Regions from separate parts of the Homo sapiens genome. Here region 1 is linked to region 2. Evidence: fine-mapped expression QTL. A gene starts in region 2. The other region holds a variant in brackets. All regions are shown on one strand. Distances are between the middles of the regions.

Region 1 (10,447 bases), 57 kb after region 2:
GTCCTTGCTTTGCACTCCTTCAGGGTAGCTCAGGAGTCATTTTGCCATATAGGCAGAGGCTTGGAAGTAACCCTCTCTCAAAGTCTGTTTCCCAGCGCTGGGATTTTAGGAGTACCTTGTTCCCAGGCCCTTAGTGTTGGCTTTACAGAGAGGTCCACAGGCAGCCCTGCCAAGACATGGGGCAGAGGGAACCCAATCCAAGCTGCCCACACCTGTTCCAGCCTCTCCTCCAGACACTTAGGCCACCTCCAGTTTAGCTCCCTTGGCCCTTCACCCCAGTTTCCTCCCACCCCTCCTCTCTGCCCACATCCACTCCTGAGTTACCTTGCCACCTGCTTCCTCTCCACCTGTGCCCCAGCTGCTTTCACTAAGGAAACAAAAATCTCTACCCTGCCAACTGGCATCATCACCGATGTGTGGTTCCAGACCCCTGCACATCACAAGGCAAATCTCCAGCCACCCCAGGCCTGCACCCTGTCCACTTCCACACAGCTGCCCTCCCAAACTTGTTTCCCTTCTGCCAACCCCAGCCCCCATACTTCTCCAATCAGCATCCTCAATTCCTGTTTCTCCAAAAAGCCAGGAGCCATCTAACGTGAGCCTCCTATCGCCTGCTCCCTTCTCTCTCCACTGCTGGGAGAGGGGTCCATCCTTTTGGCCAAACCTAATACCATGTACATGTACCTGGATCTCATCCCCTCTTGCCACTTCAGGGAGCTGGCTCTGTCAGTTATCCCCTCTTTTGCCTGAATGTCTCACCTCAGCTCCCCCTGTAAACACAATAAGATCTGCAGCATCCTATAGTAGCAACAGGGAAGTAACCCAGACCCTGCTGCCTCTTGTCCTTCCAGGCTCCCAACTTCTCTGCCCTAGGTCTCCATGACACTGCTTCCCTTTCATCCCTGGCCCTAATGCATTCTGTCCCAGACTCCCTCTGCCACCCCTCCCCCAAAGTCTCCAGCGACTTCCACGTCTTCATATCCAGGGCTGTTTGCCGGTCCTTATCTAGCCTGACATCTCTGCCTCATCCAAAACCTCTGAACATTCTTCTTCCGCTTCTTGGAGCACTTTCTTCTCCTGCATCTCCTGCTGGCTGCTTTCTCTCTGCTGGCCTCTTACATGCTGGAGAGTTTGGGCTTCTAGCTTGGCTTTTTTCACTTCTCACTCTACATGACCTCCCTAGGGGACTCTCTGAGGGACAGCAAGGGTGAAGGAAAGAACATTGGCTTTGTGGTCAAATAGTCCCAAGTTTAAATCCCAGCCACGTCAATGGGTGAGCTTGGGCAAGTTTCTTCACCTCTTTGAGCTTTATCATCCTCATCTGGAAAATAGGGAGGATAAACTTCTGTTACTGATGTTTGGAGTGTTACTGATGATGACTTGTGTGGAAGGTCCCTCACGAAATAGGCGGACAGCACGTAGTGGGGCATTATGGCTCCAGGCACCACCAATATGCCAGTGACCACCAAATCTATATCCCTAACCCCACTTTTCTCCTAGCTCTAATTCCGCATATTCAATTTGCAGATCTATAGCTCTAGCTCCCTTCTCTGCTTCCTATCTAGTCCTATATTTCCACCTACTTATAGATACTTCCGATGATATTTTTCAAGACCTGAAGCTGAACCTACCCCCAGCTGAACTCATTCCTCACAACATCCTCCCCTGACCTGTCCTCTTCCCGTGATCTCCATCTTGAGGTTAATAGCTCAAAACCTACTCAGTGGCCCCATTTGGACTCCTCAGAGTCCTAAGGACAGTCCTCCTCCTGATCCCCCTTGCTGCTGCCACAGTTCAGGTACTTCTTGTGTCTCCTGTGGGCCACTGCCTGACAGAGCTAAGTTCTGGCTGCTTGGCACAGTGTACGTGGCCTTCTGTGCCAGTCCTGAGCCTTTATTTCCAATGACATTTCATGCTTGTCTTCTAACTTCACCATCACTACACCCTAGCTACACCATGCCTGGCACGCACCATGTTCTTGTCAGCTGGAGAACTACTGCCCTTTAAAATCTTGTAGTGGCTCATGCCTTTAATCCCAGTATTTTGGGAGGTTGAGGCAGGAGGATGACTTGAGGCCAGAAGTTCAAGACCAGCCCAGGCAACATAATGAAACCCTGTCTCTACAAAAAAATTCAAAAATTAGCTGAAGTGGTGATGTACACCTGTAGTCCTAGCTACTCAGAGGTTGAGGTAGGAGGACTGCTTGAGCCCAGGAGTTGGAGGTTCAGTGAGCTGTGATCTCACCACTGCACTCTAGCCTGGGCTACATAATGAGACCCTGTTAAAAACAAAAATAAAAAGATCCAGCTTCCATGGTACCTTGGCAGGGAAGTCTTTTTACTGCCCCAGCAGACTTGGAGCTCAGTGGTCCTTGAAACCTATCCCAGTGATGGCCCTGGCTATCGCTAATGGTCTGTTTACCTTCCACTAGTTCTGTCAAACCTTTGAGGGCAAGACCCATTTGGGTCACCTCTGTATCCCCAGCTCTAAGCATATGCCTGGAAGATAGTTGTGTTCAGTGAATATTTACTGAATAGCTGAAAGAATAAAGGAAGGGTGAGCTCACGCAAACCCCAGAGGAGAAGTGAAGCATTCCCTGACCTCGTCTCCCTGCCTCCCACCCGTCTGAGGATGCTTCAGGTTTCCTGGAGGACCTAGGGCAGCAGAGGGTGTTCAATGGAAGGGCAGTGTGGAAAACCCCACTGAGGAAAGACCATGTACACACAGGGGGCCTAGGAGAGGACTCCTGCTAGAGACTTTCAGGGTCTGGAAGACACAGATGCGTATCTGGAACCTTCCAAGCCAGAGCTCAGGATATCCCCAAAGGTCTGAAGAACTGGGTAATGGCAGCCTAGATAAAGCAGCCAGAGGTAGGAGACTGGTCAAGAAGCAGCCTGAGTGGTCAGAGGTCTGGGGCCAGAACAGATGAAAGGGGTCTATAGGCAGCTCTCATATGAACTCTGGGAGGCAAGTCCAGGAAGGAGAACCCTAGGTGAGGCCACTTGAAAGTCCCTGGGGGATTCTCTGCCACCTCATCAAAGATCTTTCTGACTGATGCTTAACATTCCATTATTGGAGAATCACTCCTTTGAGCTAAACCTTATGTTCTTTGGCCCTAAATACAAATATTCCTGTGAGAGAGGGTGACGGCCTTTGCCAGTTAAAACTTTAGTTATCAGTTGACACCCTAAAAAATGTGTTGTGAGTGTCAGAGGAGGGGGCTGTAGGAACACTCATAAGGAACTTCCTAATTTTGCTAAGAGGTGGCTTGCTTTCCCTCCCCCTACCCTATTCTTTATGGCTATCCTCTCCTAGATCTCCACTGGGTTCCCTCCTCAGAGGAAAAGATGGAGAGGTGGAGAAGGACCACTTCATCTACCAATACCACTCCTATGGATATCCTGGATTAAGGAAAGGATAGGTGGAAGTATTGGGGCAAAGTTCAATTTATCCATGAACCAACTTCAAGTAGACCATAAAGCAAATTGTTGTAAAACAAAGCTCAGTTGCCCAATAGCTTCTATTACATTTCCATAGAAGGGCTCCCATTGGGCTGAAAATCATTCTAGGAGAAGCTGAAAACCTGCAATAAGGAAGGATCGTCGGAATGTTTGCCAGCTATGTGCTTCTGCTGAGTGTTGATATCCTTACAGAATTTTGCCTCCCTTTTGCAGCAAGAGGCTCTCTTTTCGTCATGCCACGTCTCCACTTCTGAGCTGACTTGGCAAAGCTGAGGGACATCACAGTCAGGCTGACATTCCTTGGTGCCCTGCTCTGGTCCTGCAAAATCTAGTCTGTAGGAAGTTGCAGTATGTTGAAGAAGAACGGGCTTCCCTGGGCCCCTGACCCAGACTCAGTGATGTTCCACCTCTTGATCAGCTTAAGGGCTACTGAGGAGGGAGAGGAGCTCATTCTTTTTTTTTTTTTTTTGAGACGGAATTTCGCTCTTGTTGTCCAGGCTGGGGTGCAATGCTGCGATCTCAGCTCACCGCAACCTCTGCCTCCCAGGTTCAAGTGATTCTCCTGCCTCAGCCTCCCAAGTAGCTGG[GA/A]TTACAGGCATGCGCCACCACACCCGGCTAATTTTGTATTTTTAGTAGAGACAGGGTTTCTCCATGTTGGTCAGGCTGGTCTTGAACTCCTGACCTCAAGTGATCCACCTGCCTCGGCCTCCCAAAGTGCTGGGATTACAGGTGTAAGCCACCGCACCCAGCCCGGAAGGAGCTCTTCTGTCTTTACCCTCTGTCCCCAGTCCCCGGTCCAATGCTGCTGGGATTGATTGAGAAATTTGGTGGCTTCTCTTTGGTAGATCCAAGCTGTAATGCCACCCTTTACCAGTAGGTGCCGCCATCTAACATACCATCCTTCAGCCCTTGGTGAAGTCCTGAAGCCAGACCTCTGGGAGTCTACTCAGGGAACCCACTGCCTCAAACAAATTTGCAAATAAAATTATTGTATTTGAAATAGGCCCACATTGGTGAAGTTAAGATGTGGAACTAATTGTATGTGTATTTCTATATAACCACAGACTCAATGTTTGATGTTTGACATTTATTGTGCACTTACTATGTACCAGGGACTTAAAGGATGTGGGGATTCAAAGATGACATGGTTTCTCCTTTTAAGTTTATGATTTGGCAAGAGAAATTCACATCTAAATAATTGGAATATAAGGCAGAATGTGGTAAATGTCCAAACATGGAGGTGCCAACATAAAATTCTAATGAGGGCATAAAGAGCACAGATTAATTCCAGCTGGAAGCAGGAGGACAACTCAGTGGAGGAGGAAAGGGTTTAAAGCTGACCTCAAAGAATATATAGAATTCTCATACATGGAGTTGGGTGAAGAGAGTGAGGGCTTTCCAGGTGGCAGGAACAACATGAGCAAAGACTTGGAGAGGAGAATGTCTTCAGGGAATTAATAATTGGTTCAATCAGAGACAAGTATTTCAGAGAGTGTGGAGGAAGATCTGAAAGGTGGGATGGGGCTAGACAATGAAGAGCCTGTTTCCATCAGATGCTAAGCGACTGACAGTGTTGCATAGGCTCCGGGAACCCGGCAACTTTACAGCAAAGTAGCAGCATGGCGGGCTCACTTCATGAATTAGCTTTATGTGTGCTCCAGGATTTCTTCAATGTGTTGATTTTTAGTGAATTTATTTCATCATGAATGCAGGAAGAGAACAGAAAGAAAAACGGGGAAAAGAGGACATAAAAAGAAGTGGGCTGGGCATGGTGGCTCACACCTGTAATCCCAGCACTCTGGGAGCCTGAGGCAGGCGGATGACGAGGTCAGGAGATCAAGACCATCCTGACTAACACAGTGAAACCCCATCTCTACTAAAAATACAAAAAATTAGCTGGGTGTGGTGGCGGATGCCTGGAGTCCCAGCTACTCGGGAGGCTGAGGCAGGAGAATGGTGTGAACCCCAGGAGGCGGAGCTTGCAGTGAGCCGAGATTTGGCCACTGTACTCCAGCCTGGGTGACAGAGCAAGACTCCGTTTCAAACAAACAAACAAACAAAAAAGAAGTGACAGGGAGGGAAATAATGGACAGAAGGAAAAGAGAGATGGAGAAGGAAGAGAGAGAAAGAGAAGGAGGCAGCCCTGGAGGAGACAAGGCAAACCCTGAACTGTTCAGGGGCCAAGCTTAAGGAGCTACTTGGGCTTTTCCAGGCAAACGACCTCTGGCTTCTTGCCCTGGCCAACCACAGAGGACAATGTGAGGCGAGTTTGTTTGGTGATGTGTTTTCTGCTGGCCCTGTTTGTTTGTTTTTCATTTTTCTGGTATTGGACAGATCTGGGGTGAAGGAAGAGGGAGACAGGGTTGTGGCTGGCATTGATAGTGGTCCTTGGGCTGGGCTCTGGGCTGCCCAGAGCCCCCCTTTAGTGGGGGCTTATGGGCATTGGAGCTGAACTTTTGATGTCCCTGGAAGGGGGCCTTTTTGTAGGTGCCCAGAGCCAGGTGGCCTTCCCAAGCCTGGAGATGGTTTGCCCTAAGCTCTTTGTCTCTGTCTTTCCCCACCCTGGCAAGAAAGAATTAGTCCTTGAGGCCTGGGCTCCTTGCCTGTGTAGCCAGGATGTCGTGCTGGGCTGGGGAGCCCATGGGGGTAGCAAGAGCAGCTGCTTCCAGATTGGTGCTGGGGAACGCAGGGGCAGTCCACGAGAGCCAGCCTTCTCCCCAGCCCCGATGATGAGTCTGGCTTTCTCTCCCGTCCCACAGCCCTTGGAAGCCAACCTAACAAGTTCTATTAAAGTTAATGAAACACAATGATTCCTCTGTTTGCTTGGTTACAACTCATTACGAGTTGCTCTTGCTTGCTCGGCTTTTGCAGAGGAGATTCATTTGAGTAGCCAGTGCTTGGCCTTTGTCCCCCTAATTTTTACTGGCCCATTAACAAGATCAGACACTTTGGCTGACCAGGAATATCTAGTACCCAAGTCCCAACAAAACCCATTGGGTGGAGTTTCAGATGACCTTTTGAGTCTAAATTAGCCTAAAAACATGCTGCCGCCCTTCCTCCCTCTGTTGCTTCCCTATATCCAAACTCAGTTTTATATGTAGGTACAATAGGAGTATGCAGAGATTTCAGAAGTTAGGAGATGCTTTTCCAGCCTCTTTAGAATGTATCTCAACCCACTGATTTAGAGAAGTTCCCTAGTAAGAGCTCCAGCTCGATTTAAGGGCTTTCCTCCCCCATTTAAATGGAAATAAACTGAACATTGTTAGTCACTTATACTTTGGTGTGAATTAGTTCATATTGTCACTTTAAGGGGATTTGGGAGTCTCCTAAATTGTATACAAACTTTTGTCCACATTATCCATTCTTCCAGAGAGAGGTTTTCTATAGCTTTCTTCAAAATTTCCATAACCGTCCCCCCACCCCCTACCCCAACACGTACACACACACACACACAAACTCTCTCTCTCTCAAAAGGTTAACAACCTCTGTGTTAGTAGAAGAGTGGGCCGTAACTGGGGCACAGAAGACAAACTCTCCTTCCTTCACCATCTGCTTGGCCAGTCCTGCCTCTAAGGAGGGACCTTCCCCTCCTCCTTGAGTTCCTTATCCACAGACCTCCCATTGTCACCACAGCTCAATCATGTGCTTCCCAAATCTTAAAACCAACCTCAAGTTGGTGGGGAGGAGTCAAAAGGAGAGCCCTTGAACTCTATGTTGATTTACATGCCGAGGCTGTAAATGATAGGTTTACATGCTGGTGTAAATACTCATAAACTCGCAGTAAGTGCAGGGCATCACATGCTTTCAGTGTCCAGATCCTCTGCAGCCCGTACAGGCCTGGCATTCTCAGGGTCAGGGAGGAGAGCGCCGAGTTGGCAGCAGCTAGCATGACAGGGGCTGACTATGACTATGGAGGAAAAGGGCGTGCTTGGAGTTGGTCTCTAAACCCTCATCCTCTCCCATACAGCAGGTGGCTTCTGCACAGTGATACCTTGGCATGACTCCCCCTGCTGCTCAGCCAGCCTGACTGTTCTTTTGGGTTAAAGCATTGTCTCCAGAAGGTCCCTGTTAAAATGCAAAGGGGCTTCTTGCAGGGTGACTTGGGCTGGTTGGCTGACTGGCTGTCACTCAACAGAAAACAGAGACCCCAGATCAGGGAGGTTAAGGTTTGGGAGAAAGGTTCAGGTGGGTCAATACTATAGCTATATGAAGTTGATTTAAATGGCTTTCCAGGTGTTCTCCCTAATTCCACTCTTGGGGGCTGAGAATCTATCCTTCATATGGCAGCCAGAGTCGTTTTAAAGCTGGGCCATACAACCTCAACGTGATTGACGTTTGTTGGGGGGCCATCCTATGCATTGTAGCACATTTAGCAGCATCCCTGGCCTCTACCCACTAGGTGCCAGCAGCAGCACTCCCTCCCCACGTTGCGACAGCCAAAAATGTCTACAGACATTGACACATGTCCCCTGGGGGAGGGGAGTGAAATCATACCCCCTATCTTCACTTCCCCCTGCCCCACTGAGAATCTCCATCATAAAGTGTAAGTCAGCCCATGTTACTCCCTGGTCAAAAATCCTACCATGTCTTCTCATTGTTCTGAGCATGAAATCCGCCGTTTGGCCCAGCCTTCAAGGCCTTGTGTAGTCCAGCCTTGCCTCCCTCTCCTGCCCCACCTTGTACCCCTCTGCTGTCATCTACCATCACCCTTTAGCCACATATAACCCTTTTTGACATACCTCGATAAACCAAGCTCTTTCTTGGACAGGGTGGAAGATGGAGAGATATGGGCAGATTTAGAGTAAGTTTCAGAGGCCCTAATTTCTTTGGATTTTACTGGGAGGCCTTTTCTTTTCGCTTTTTTGAGATGGAGTTTAACTCTTGTCGCCCAGGCTGGAGTACAATGGCGTGATCTCGGCTCACTGCAACCTCTGCCTCCTGGTTTCAAGCAATTCTCCTGATTCAGCCTCCTGAGTAGCTGGGATTACAAGCGCTTGCCACCATGCCCGGCTAATTTTTGTATTTTTTAGTAGAGACAGGGTTTCACCATGTTGGCCGGGCTGGTCTTGAACTCCTGATCTCAGGTAATCCACCCGCCTCAGCCTCCCAAAGTGCTGGGATTACAGGCATGAGCCACCGTGCCCGGCCTAGGGAGGTCTTTTCATATTAGCTTATGACAACTTGTAAATATTTAACTTACTGAATTATTTACTTTTGTTTTTCCCTTCTCCCCAACTAGAACGTAAGCTCCATCAGAGCAGGGACCATGTCTGGCTTGTTCACTATCGTGTCCTCATCATCTCCTGTACTGCCTGCCACATGGTAGGTCCTCGGTGATTACCTGTGGAATGAATGAATAAGGGTGGCAGGAGTTCAGAGAGGGAGAGGGACTCTTCTGGAAGGTTAAGGGAAGGTTTCCTGGGCATGCTGAGGCTTGAAGCTTGGGTAGGAGGTGGGGAGGGTAATCTGGGACAGAATTTAGGGGATGGCAGAAGCAGGGGCCTAAAGAATTTCACAGTGGCCAAAATGTGCTGCAATTAACCCAAGTGACATCCAGGCAGCAGGAACTTGTCATGGGGCAGAAGAACAAGTCTGATGTGAATATGATTCTCAGTCTGAGTGGATCCAAGGGGGTGAAGTAGTTGAGTCCCCTAAGTTGTTGAGGAAGTAGGGAGGGAAATCAGTTAGGCTAGAGCCTAGCAAAACCAGGGCCAAACCAGGGAGGGTTTGATTGCTGAGACTGGAGTATGGAATTGGCTGAGCCACTGAAAGGTGATGATTATTCCTCCCCTGGTATCTGATGTTGGTGATCTTGACTTCTCTGATCCCCTCGGATCCCCAGAACCAGCTCTGTGATCCTAAGTGAAGTCAAGGGACTGACCGGACACATGAACCTAGATCTCTGCAAAGAGCCCTGGGACCCAAATGGGAGAGGTCCAGGGCCTGGTTCCATCATCCCTCCCTCTCTTGATGTGTGGCCTTGCTCAAGGCGTTGGACTGCAGTGGACCTCCATGTCCTTCTTTTGGAAAACAGAGTTAACAATACCTGCCCCATTCAGAGGAGAAATGAGGTCATGTTTGTGCAGCACAGTGAGCTCACTGGAGACAATGAGTGTATTCTTCTTAACAGTAACAATAATAATCATTACTGAAAATCTAACCAGTAAATATATCTCCTCAAAGCTGGAGTTGGCCCCTCAGTAGGATAGCAATTAAAGTTTTTTTAAAAATCTCTAGATGGGGAAATTTTCTGGCTGCATTTTGATCTCTGGGGTTTGCAGAGTTGATATCATTGTGGGAGGGAGAGAGGCCTGCAGCAATCATTCATCTCAATTCCATTCAATTGTACTTTTTGTATCTCCCTTGTCCTTGAGTTCTATCCACTGGGCTTTGCAATTTCTCATCCTCTATTAGTCCTGAGGGAAAGAAGTCCCTAAATTCCGCATCTCCACACTCACCCGCTGTCCCATTCACTGACATAAACAGTGACCTGGCTACTGGAGATCCTGGGCATTCGAGCATTGGCCACAAACTATCCTGCAAAGAAAGTGGTCTGTCTTGGGTACATGATTCTCTTTCCTGCTCATCCCACTTAGTGGGCCAGTGATTCCCAAGCCGAGCTGTGCATTCAAAGCCCCCAGGAGTGGGTCCATGGATTATCAGGTGATTCTAATTTAGCCAGCCTAGCACCTGTCTGAATTTGAGAATTGCAAGGTTTTCAACCATTAGTTGTTAAATGTGTGTACAAGGAGCAGAGTGATGCTAATACAAAGGCATTGTTGCAGTTTGGGTCAAGCTGGCAAAAGACCGTCTCTCCTGCTACAATACACAAAATGACAGAAAAACTCTTGGAACAAATAAAATAGTAAATCCAATATCGTGTGATAAAACAGAGAACCATCAGCAGATCAGAAATGTTGGATCTGTGAGAGAGAAAGATAAATGGCATCAAAGCTATAAAGAGGCCGGGCGCGGTGGCTCACGCC
Region 2 (9,565 bases):
TCCTTCCATTTTTGCCCCGTTATAGCTTATTCTCAACACAGCAGCCACAATGACCTTTTCAATATGTCAGGCCATGTTATTTATCTGCCTAGAATTCTCTAATGGCTACCATCTCACTCACAACTCACACTACAAGCCAGTGGCCTGTGTGATCTGCCCCCAATTCACCCCCACCGCAACATCTGCCATTTCTTCTCTCACTAATATACTGCAGCCGTATTGGCTGGCTTCCTCATGTTTCTTGAATATATAGGGCACATTCCTGCCTCAGGGCCTTTGTGTTTGCTGTTCTTCCTGACTGGAATAAATTTCCCCTAGATGTATGCTTGACTTACCCCCTAACTTCCTTCAGGTCTTTGCTCAAATGTTACCTTTTTAGTGGGAACCTCTTCAACTACCCTATTTAAAATTTTAACACCCAGAATCCTGGCATTTTCTTCTTCTTCTTCTTCTTTTTTTTTTTTTTTTGAGACAGAGTCTCGCTCTGTCGCCCAGGCTGGAGTGCAGCAGCGTGATCTCAGCTCACTGCAACCTCTGCCTCCTGGGTTGAAGTGATTCTCGTGCCTCAGCCTCCCGAGTAGCTGGGATTACAGGTGCCTGCCACCACGCCTGGCTAATTTTTGTATTTTTAGTAGAGCTGGGGTTTCGCCATGTTGGCCAGGCTGGTCTCAAACTCCTGGCCTCATGTTATCTACCCAACCCAGCCTCCCAAAGTGCTGGGATTACAGGTGTGTGCCACTGCACCTGGCCTACTCCTGGCACTTTCTATCTCCCTTCTCTGCTTAATTTTCTCAATATATATTTTACTTATTTGTTTATTGTCTGTCTCTACCCTGTCCATTCCTCAAACAGTGAGCTCACTGCTCTATTCCCAGTACCTAGAAAAGTACCTGGCACACAGCAGATATTCACCAAATATTTGTGGGATGAATGAATCAGTGAATGAATGAATATATATACCTTTAGGATCTCCCAGTAACTTGAAACCTTTAGGCAAGAAGGGGAAGACCCTAGTAGAGCTCTGGTCTCTCTCCAGCCCTCAGTCCCTCTTTCCTCCTTACTGCCTCACCCTCTTCTCAGGTCCAGTCCAGCCCTATTCCACCAGAAACCATACCTAAGCTGAGAAGCAGTGCAACAGGTGCTTGATGCCAGGATGTTACAATTCCCAGGCCACTAGGTACAGAATTCTGCAGGGTGCTAATTTTTAAATTTAGCATCCTGATATCTCACAAACAGAAGAGGTCAGAGAAAGGTTAGGACTAAATATACTACTTAACCTAGATAACAGTACTGATTCAGAAACAGTAGCTCATTTGCTCTGAGGTGTTTTCCAAGGAACAGTGCTAAATTTGCACTTGTTCACCTAGCTGCCCCTGCCTTTAATCTTTTTATAATGGATTTCCAACATACACAAAAATGGAAAGAATGGTATAATGAACCTCTTGAACCCATTATCCAACTTCAAAAATTACCAACATTTTGCCTCCTTGGTTTCCTCTGTTCCTTAATCGTCTCTGCAACCCACACTAAATATTTCAAACTAGCTGTTTTCTTGAGAACAGATTTATATAAGACAGCCCCTGATGCTGTTACCACTGTATTTGAGCAACTGCGTCAAACAACCTATCTTACCAGAAATACAGTAGAAAAAGAAAAGCACTTACACCCATTCCCCCACCCGAGCAATGACTAAAAAAGGAAGTGTCTAAATTACCGACGTTTAAATCAAGGGACATGCCCATTATCATGTTTGGAGAACTTTGGGGAGGGGTGTTGTGTCCACAAAATGAATGTAGACATGAACTGCTTTTACTTTTGTACACCTGATGCAGAATTTCTGAGTGAGTTAATTTAATCCAACAGGTAAGTACTGACTACCTGCTAAATGTGAGGGAAGAGATGAAGACAGAAGATAAAGAAAACCAGCCAGGTGCAGTGGCTCATGCCTGTAATCCTAGCACTTTGGGAGGCTGAGGCGAGTGGATCACCTGAGGTCAGGAGTTAGAGATCAGTCTGGCCAACATGGTGAAACCCTGTCTCTACTAAAAATACAAAAATTAGCTGGGCATGGTTGCAGGCGCCTGTAACACCAGCTACTTGGGAGGCTGAGGTGTGAGAATCACTTGAACTCAGGAGGAGGAGGTTGCAGTGAGCCAAGACTGCACCACTGCACTCCAGCCTGGGTGACAGAGTAAGACTCCATCTCGAAAAGAAAAGAAAAAAGAAAACCTAGTCTCTGTTCTCACAGAGCTCACAGAGTGGGGTTGAGAAAAGTACACAAATAACTCAAATACAAGGCAGAATAAGTTCTGTGCCCTAAGTAAACAAATCTAAGGCAAGAACTCCTTTTTAAAATCCACCCACAGCAGTTGTAGAACCCAGGGTATACCCTTTCCTCAACTCTAGTTTTAGTTTCTGCTGTATTTATTGCTGCACAGCCAATAAGTACATTATAAGAGACCTGGGAATTTGGTGACCCACAGAATAGACTTTTGGATGTGGATCTTTGATGTCACATTTTGCTACTGACTCTTCAGACTTCAGTGGTTGGGGATTATCAAGTTTTCCCAGGGCTTGGAAAACAATGGGGCTAATTCAGTGCCTGCAGAAGCTGACACCCAAAGCATTCTACTCTGAGGGCATATACAGCAAGCAGCTTCATAACAGGATAGGATAGTGGGAGGGTGTCCAGGAGACACAGCTAGATTGATTCTGAAGGACTTCAAAGGGCTCTCTCCCTGCCCTCTAAAAAACCAAGATCCTTTGGTGATCTATTATCAGAAGTCATCAGAAGTTCCCAGAGAAGAGTGTAGTTCTCTGGATAAACCGAAGAGACTGATGAAGTTTGGTGGAACAGTGCAGCATATGAAGGAAGCAGAGCTGAAAGCAGCAGGGGCATACGCATGGCCCTGGAGATAGATGCACAAGAGAGTGGAGGAAGAAAGGAGCAGACCTGAGATGGAAGGGAGATTTATATTGTAATCAATTATCAAGATTGGTGAGGTGAGGATGGCTGAGGGGACAAATAAGAGGAAGGCAGGAAGAGGAGGCCCTGTGGAAGGGTGAAAGACAATCCGGGTTTGAAAAGGTGAGGGAGGAATCTGAGAGGCAGGATCTCACAGGATACTGGGCAAGGGTATGAGAGGAGAGGCCTTAGAATGGGAGGGTGTGCAAGTTATACAGGATTGCTTCATGCTGGGATGGAAGGAGCCGATTCCATTGAAGCTAGTCACATCAAGAGGTCACTAAATGAAGGACAAATTATATGAAGGTTTCAGGTCACAGAATGTGGCTGAGGATGGCAGAAGGTGGGGTGGTGGGAGTAGAACACTGAGACTAAAAAATAGGATGAAAGGCAACTGGGCTAGATGGTTTTAGAGCATACAGACTTGTGGATTCCTGGGGCTAAGGGACTTAACAAGATGAAAGGATTTGGGGTAAAGTGCCAGTGAGGTGGGAGACACTGTATGGTGAGTGAGTTCACAGGGAAAGGGCTGGAAGCGTCAAAGATTCATAGAACAAGAGATATTTGGGCAAAGGATGAAGAGAGAAGTTGACTGGGTTCAAGACACTACTCCAAAATATGGCAACTTGAGAAAATGGCAGTAGGAAGGTCACTCTCACTTTCTCTGAGGCTCTTCTCCCCTGAAGCAGATCACAAAACCTAGGAAGGATTTTTCTGACTTTCCCCTGAAGCAGGTCATAATACCCTCCTCATAAAGAGGTGCCCTCCCTATACTCAGAGGAAAGAAGCACCCTTATCTGTGAAGACACAGGGACACAGAGAAGAGTCTGAACAAACAGGCCTTGCTAAGTTTCTCCCAGTTTATTACTATTTGATATTACCCTTTTTGTATTTTTCCACAACTATCCACTCTTCATCAGATCTAGTATAAAAATATACAAGTTTAATCATTTCTTTAGGTCTTCATTTCCTTATGAAGGCTCCTGTCACATAAAACTTACATTAAATAAATGTATATAATCTTCTCTTATTAAATCTGTTGTTATAGGGGCCTAAGCCATGAACCTAAGAAGATATTTTCCCTCCCCTACAAGGTGCAGGGGCTTCAGGGGATATGAGATCAAAAGTCATGAACAGCAGGATGAGAAAGTCACCAAGTTACATGGCAAACGGTAATAGAAACCTTGGGGGTCAGGGCCAGTCTTGGTGGCTCACGCCTATAATCTCAACTACTTGAGAGGCTAAGGTGGGAGGATCTCTTGAGGCTAGGAGCTCAAGAACAGAAACCTTAGGGATCAAGGAACGAGCTGATGTTGTATTTAGGAATTACTAGAAAATAAGGAATAAGGAGCTGAGGTTGAGTAAGTCTGGGGGAAAGACAGGCAATGGAGTAGGGTTTTGTTTTGTTTTTTTAAACTGTGGGTTCAAATCTTAGCTCTGCTACTTAGCTGTGAGAGTTTCTGGTTCATTTCTCTGAAACCAACCAACCAACCAAACAAAAATATGGGAAGGGAAAATGGTGGATATAATAATAATTAACTCTTGGGGCTGTTGAGACGTAAATTTAACTTATATATCCAGAGCTTGGCACACAGTAGGTATTCAGCAAGCCAATCGTTATTGAGGCAAAATCAGGGTAAGAACCAGAGAAGTGAGGCTACAGCAGAGATGAGAAGATAGGGATTCCAAGATGTCAGTAGTAGCAACATAATGCAAGGTATGGGCCACATGTTCAGTCTGTTAAATCCCTAGCACTCAGGACAGAGTAAGATCCATAGCAGCTTCTCATTTCTAACAACAGCTTATGCTAAGGGTTCCCATGAGCCAGGCATGGTGCCCGGTGCTTTACATATGTTATGTCAGGCACTACTATTTTCTCCCTTCGCAGAGGTGGAGACTGAAGTTAAGACAGGCTAAATAATATACCAAAAGTCCCATAGCTGAAGGGCCAGAATCAGTCTGGAACCTAGGTTTGTTATGAACTCAATGCCCCCAAATGAAGCACTCTGCTATACTGCTTTGCAAACATGTTAACTGATGGGGCCTGATCAAGGGAAATGGGTATGCACTATGAAGAGTGAAGAGGGTGATCCGGGAATGAGGGAGTAAGGTTCATGATGCAAGCAGATCCTGGGATGAGGTTACAAGAGGAAATTTCCAGGGTGGGGTACAAAAATGATTGCAAAAAATTATTATCTTGACTGAGAACTGCATAATTTCACAATTTCACAGACGGAAGGAAACTCAAAGATCATCTAACCCAACCTCATCACAGTCATGATGAGAAACTGAGGTCCAGACTGAGGAGGGGACTTCTCACAGGTCCCTAAAGCACAGCAGTGACAGAGCTGGGACCACACACTGGATTGACTGGATTCTGGATTGATCCAGAATTCTCTGATGCCTCCAATTATTACTACTTCATATTAATCTCTATATCCTCCTTAGCACCAGAAAGGTGCTGGACGCTTGTAAGTCATGTGCTGATTGACACTGAAGGGCTGGGATCGCAGAGAGAGATGCCAGTGGGGGTGATTTTAGGATAAAGGCAGACGTGGAACGAGGGTCATACGGCTACAGGATAAAGATACTGAGGGTTGTGTACAAGGTGAGTGCGTGGAAAACTATTGGAGTAGGGCTTAGGAGTCGCCAGCAGAGTTTTGAGGGGAGTCACCGAGTTTGTGGGGAACACAAGGTAGAATCGGGGGGGTTACTGGGCCAGGAGGGTTACCCAGGTTTGGGGGTCACTAAGGAGGAGTGTGGGGATCTCAGGGTCATGTGAGTCACCGGATTAAAACTGAGGGAGTCACTGGTTGGTGGGTCTCTGAGAAGTGCTGGGGAAATTCCTGGGTTAGCAGCCAATGAATAATAACCAACGGTTACCTGGTGAGGTCTTGGGGTCAGTGGGTGGGGTGTGGGGTCACAAGGGTGGAGGCGGGCGCCGTCACGGGGTGAGGTTTGGGAGTCACGGGGGAGGAGCCGCAAGGCGGAAAAGAGGGGCAGGGACCCTGGGTGGGGGAGGGGGCCCGGCCGCGGTCCAGCGGCCAGGCCGCCCTGCTAGGGCCGGAGGGAGGTGGGCACGCCGGGCTCGGGACCTTCCCGGGGTCCTGCGCCCGCCCGGCCTCCCGCCCTGGGCATGGTTGGCCCACTCCTCCCGCAGCCACCAACCTGACAGCCCCCGAGGGCGACTCCGCCGACAGACCGCCATGCACCGGGCCCCGCCACCAGCGCCGGCCCCACAACCCGCCTGCGCCATAGCCCGCCCGCCCGCGCGCAGCTTGCCTCGCGCGATATCCAGGTTCCAGGGCCGCCGCACTTTCCTTTCCTCTTGGCGCGCCTCTACCGGGCCCCGGAACCCGTATAGAAAATACCGGGCACGGTCCACCCCGCCCCCCGCTTCGCCGCGGCAGCCATCCAACTTATCCTGGTTCCGGGGCTCCTGGAGCCCAGGCGGCCGGGATCTGAACCGAGCTCTTCGGAGCCCCGCCCCCACCAAGGCCGGGGTGACGCATGGCCAGCGAGGCTGAGCGCCCAGGGAAGGCGTGCTGACGTCACGACGCCCGGGTCAGGGCCTGGGCGCGGCTCGGAGCCGGGTCGTCGCTATAGCAATCGGGAACCGCTACCTGTCCATTCCAAGGATTCGGTCCAGCAGAAGCGTGAGGAGGTGGCGGAGGCCCCGAGGGCTTTGCGTCATCACTTCTGCGGCCTGCGGGCGAGAAGGTGCGCTTCGGGAGTAGCGCGGGAGGACAGGAGGCGCAGGTTGTGAGGGACGCAGGCCCTGGGGCTTCGGTCTCTGTCCTCCGAGCTCAGAGCCTCCAGGCTTCTTCCCGGCCGCGCGCTCAGCACTCACTGTCTTACGGTCCCGAAGCGCTTTAAGGTGCGCAGTCCGCAGGCCTTGCCTACTGATCTTCCAGCCACCCCTTGAAGGAAGCAGTTGCAGGTATTAAGAGCTCCTTATTGAAAAGGACGATGTAGAGGGGCGGTGAGGGACTCGCCTCCGCAGGGAGGGCGCCCTGGCGGTCTTCTCAGGTTCTCTCTCATTCCCGCGTCAGCTCCACCGTCAGGCTCGAAACCGACTACTCCCTTTTGTAGGCTTGCTTTGGGTTGAACATAAAAACCAAGCCCCTTTACTATTTCCCTGCTGGGAGGGGCTGCGATTGGGAAATTTTCAGAAACCTGAGGGAAAATTAAAAGGGAGCGAGCTTTCGGTAAAAAATCAAATTAAAAAGGAGGGGCGTTAGAGAAGGAACTGGTAAAGATTGCCTTTTAGGAGAGGAACTGGGTGGCTGGAAGAATGAGGTGAGAAACTTTCCCCTCTCTATCCTTTCAGACTTTAACTGGTTTCTTTTGTATCTTCCCCGCCCCGAAAACAATTTAACTTAATAAGAATAATTTTTAAAGGACGTAAACTAGACACAGTTACAAAGTACGGGGTTTGGGGCTTGTGGTAGCTAAAGGTGTCTTTGGGGATGCGGGCATCCTTTTCCTCTCCTGCCTGAAGAGCTTAACTAGAAAGCCCCCCTTTCGGTCTTAGACATCCCCTCTTCCTGACTTGTTCTGGCTGGGACCAGAGTTCAGTTTAGGTAGGCCAGTGAGTGACATTTGATGGTTAGAATTCCTACGGTTAGAATTAATCCCTTCTGTATCTCCTAGTATGGAAATAAACTGCCTGGCCACTATGCTGCCCTCTTTCCATTCCTTTTTGGTGGAAGTTTGACAAGTTATTTCCCATAGAAAATAACTTATAGGCCGGGCGCCGTGGCTTAAACGCCTGTAATCCCAGCACTTTGGGAGGCTGAGGCGGGCGGATCACGAGGTCAGGAGTTCGAGACCAGCCTGGTCAACATAGTGAAACCCCCCCTCTCTACTAAAAATACAAAAAAATTAGCTGGGCGTGGTGGCGGGCGCCTGTAATCCCAGCTACTCCGGAGGTTGAGGCAGGAGAATTGCTTGAACCCGGGAGGCGGAGGTTGCAGTGAGCCAAGATCGCACCATTGCAGTCCAGCGCGGGCAACAGTGTGACTCCGTCTCAAAAAAAGAAAAAAAAAAAGAAAAAGAAAAAGTACCTTATAGATACAGAGAGAAGATTAAGTAGCTCCTCTTATAATATGAATTGAGGGTTAGAAATACCGCAGGGAATAGAACTCAGGCTGTACCTGAGTTTGTCCCTCTCCAACCACCCTTTTTCCATAGCTCTCTCTGTATATATATATCTGTCTTTTCTCACATTCCTTACGGATCGTAATCTGATGGCCAGTCACCTCTGCAATTATACATTTAACAAGAGCTCTGGGAAACAGTGTCTGAATCTGAAGTAATGATCCTAATGGAAGGTAATTTCAGGTTCTCAGGAGAATTGGTGAGGATATTTTGGAGGGCAGTATTGAAGACCATTGCTAGCAGTTTCTCTCCTATCCCTTCCACTCAACATATAGGCTGGTGATCTTCAGACATTTTTTAGAATGAACCCATAAAAGAATTTTGAAGAGCTATGTACCTCTTGTTCATTTTTAAGTTGATACCTAAATTTTCCTTCATTAATTTAAATACTTATAGAGGATACAATTTCAAATTTTGACATCTTAAACTAAGACTTACATCATTCTTTTTTTCTGAGACGGAGTCTCGCTCTGTCAACCAGGCTGGAGTGCTGCAGTGGCGAAATCTCAGCTCACTGCAACTTCCCCTTCCAGGTTCAAGCAATTCTCCTGCCTCAGCCTCCCGAGTAGCTGGGACTACAGGTATGCGCCACCATGCCTGGCTAATTTTTAGTAGAAACGGGGTTTCATGGTGTTAGCCAGGATGGTCTCGATCTCCTGACCTCGTGATCCGCCCGCCTTGGCCTCCCAAAGTGCTGAGATTACAGGCATGAGCCACCACACTTGGTCTACATCATTCTTAATGTATCTGGCAGGGCAGGCACAGTGGCTCATGCTTGTAATCCCAGCACTTTGGGAGGCTGAGACAGGCGGATCCCGAGGCCAGGAGTTCGAGACCAGCCTGGCCAAGATGGTGAAACCCTGTCTCTACTAAAAATACAAAAATTAGCCGGGCATGGTGGTGCGTACCTGTAGTCCTAGCTACTCGGGAGGCTGAGGCAGGAGAATCACTTGAACTCGGGAGGCGGAGGTTGCAGTGAGCTGAGATCGTGCCACTGCACTCTAGCCTGGGCTACAGAGTGAGACTGTCTCACATTAAAAAAAAGTATCCGGTGGATTCCAAGTACCCTAAAAATCTAATGCCTACCATCATCCACTTAAAAATATATGAACAAGCTCTTCAACAGAAATTTTATATGGTTCTCTTTCTCCTTATACTTTGAATTCCATTCACTTCCTGTAATCATTAGTATATAACTTACTAAACTTTTTTTTTTTACTAAATATTACTAAATACTAAATTTTCCTAAATATTTTTAACATTTTTATGACTTGTGAAACCTAAAAAGTACAATTTTTATTGAAAATGCATCTGTTAATGAGAAATATGGTGTTTCTCCCCAATTAGTTCAGGTATTCATGGATTAATATTACCTAATGGTAGAAGGAGATAAGGTGCAACATCAATCCTTTACCTGTTTTTTATTTTTATAGACATGAG

What was found. PIP is the estimated chance that this variant, and not a neighbour inherited with it, causes the effect.
Region 1: its variant is fine-mapped to the expression of ZNF76 in whole blood (TOPMed, PIP above 0.99).

The regions. Positions count from the first base shown.
Region 1 is chr6:35,199,137-35,209,583 of GRCh38, reverse strand. It overlaps LOC112267955 (a long non-coding RNA gene), which reads left to right. Exons shown (of 3, transcript XR_002956343.1): 2 at 8,701-8,783. Among named protein-coding and RNA genes, the nearest start is that of SCUBE3, 9.6 kb to the left of the region's middle. The variant GA/A (reference allele first, on the strand shown) is at 4,049.
Region 2 is chr6:35,256,410-35,265,974 of GRCh38, reverse strand. ZNF76 (zinc finger protein 76) reads right to left here and starts at 6,240. Exons shown (of 14, transcript NM_003427.5): 1 at 6,134-6,240. It overlaps SCUBE3-AS1 (SCUBE3 antisense RNA 1), which reads left to right and starts at 6,520. Exons shown (of 4, transcript XR_001744102.2): 1 at 6,520-6,685. RefSeq lists silencers at 5,808-6,127, 6,138-6,257.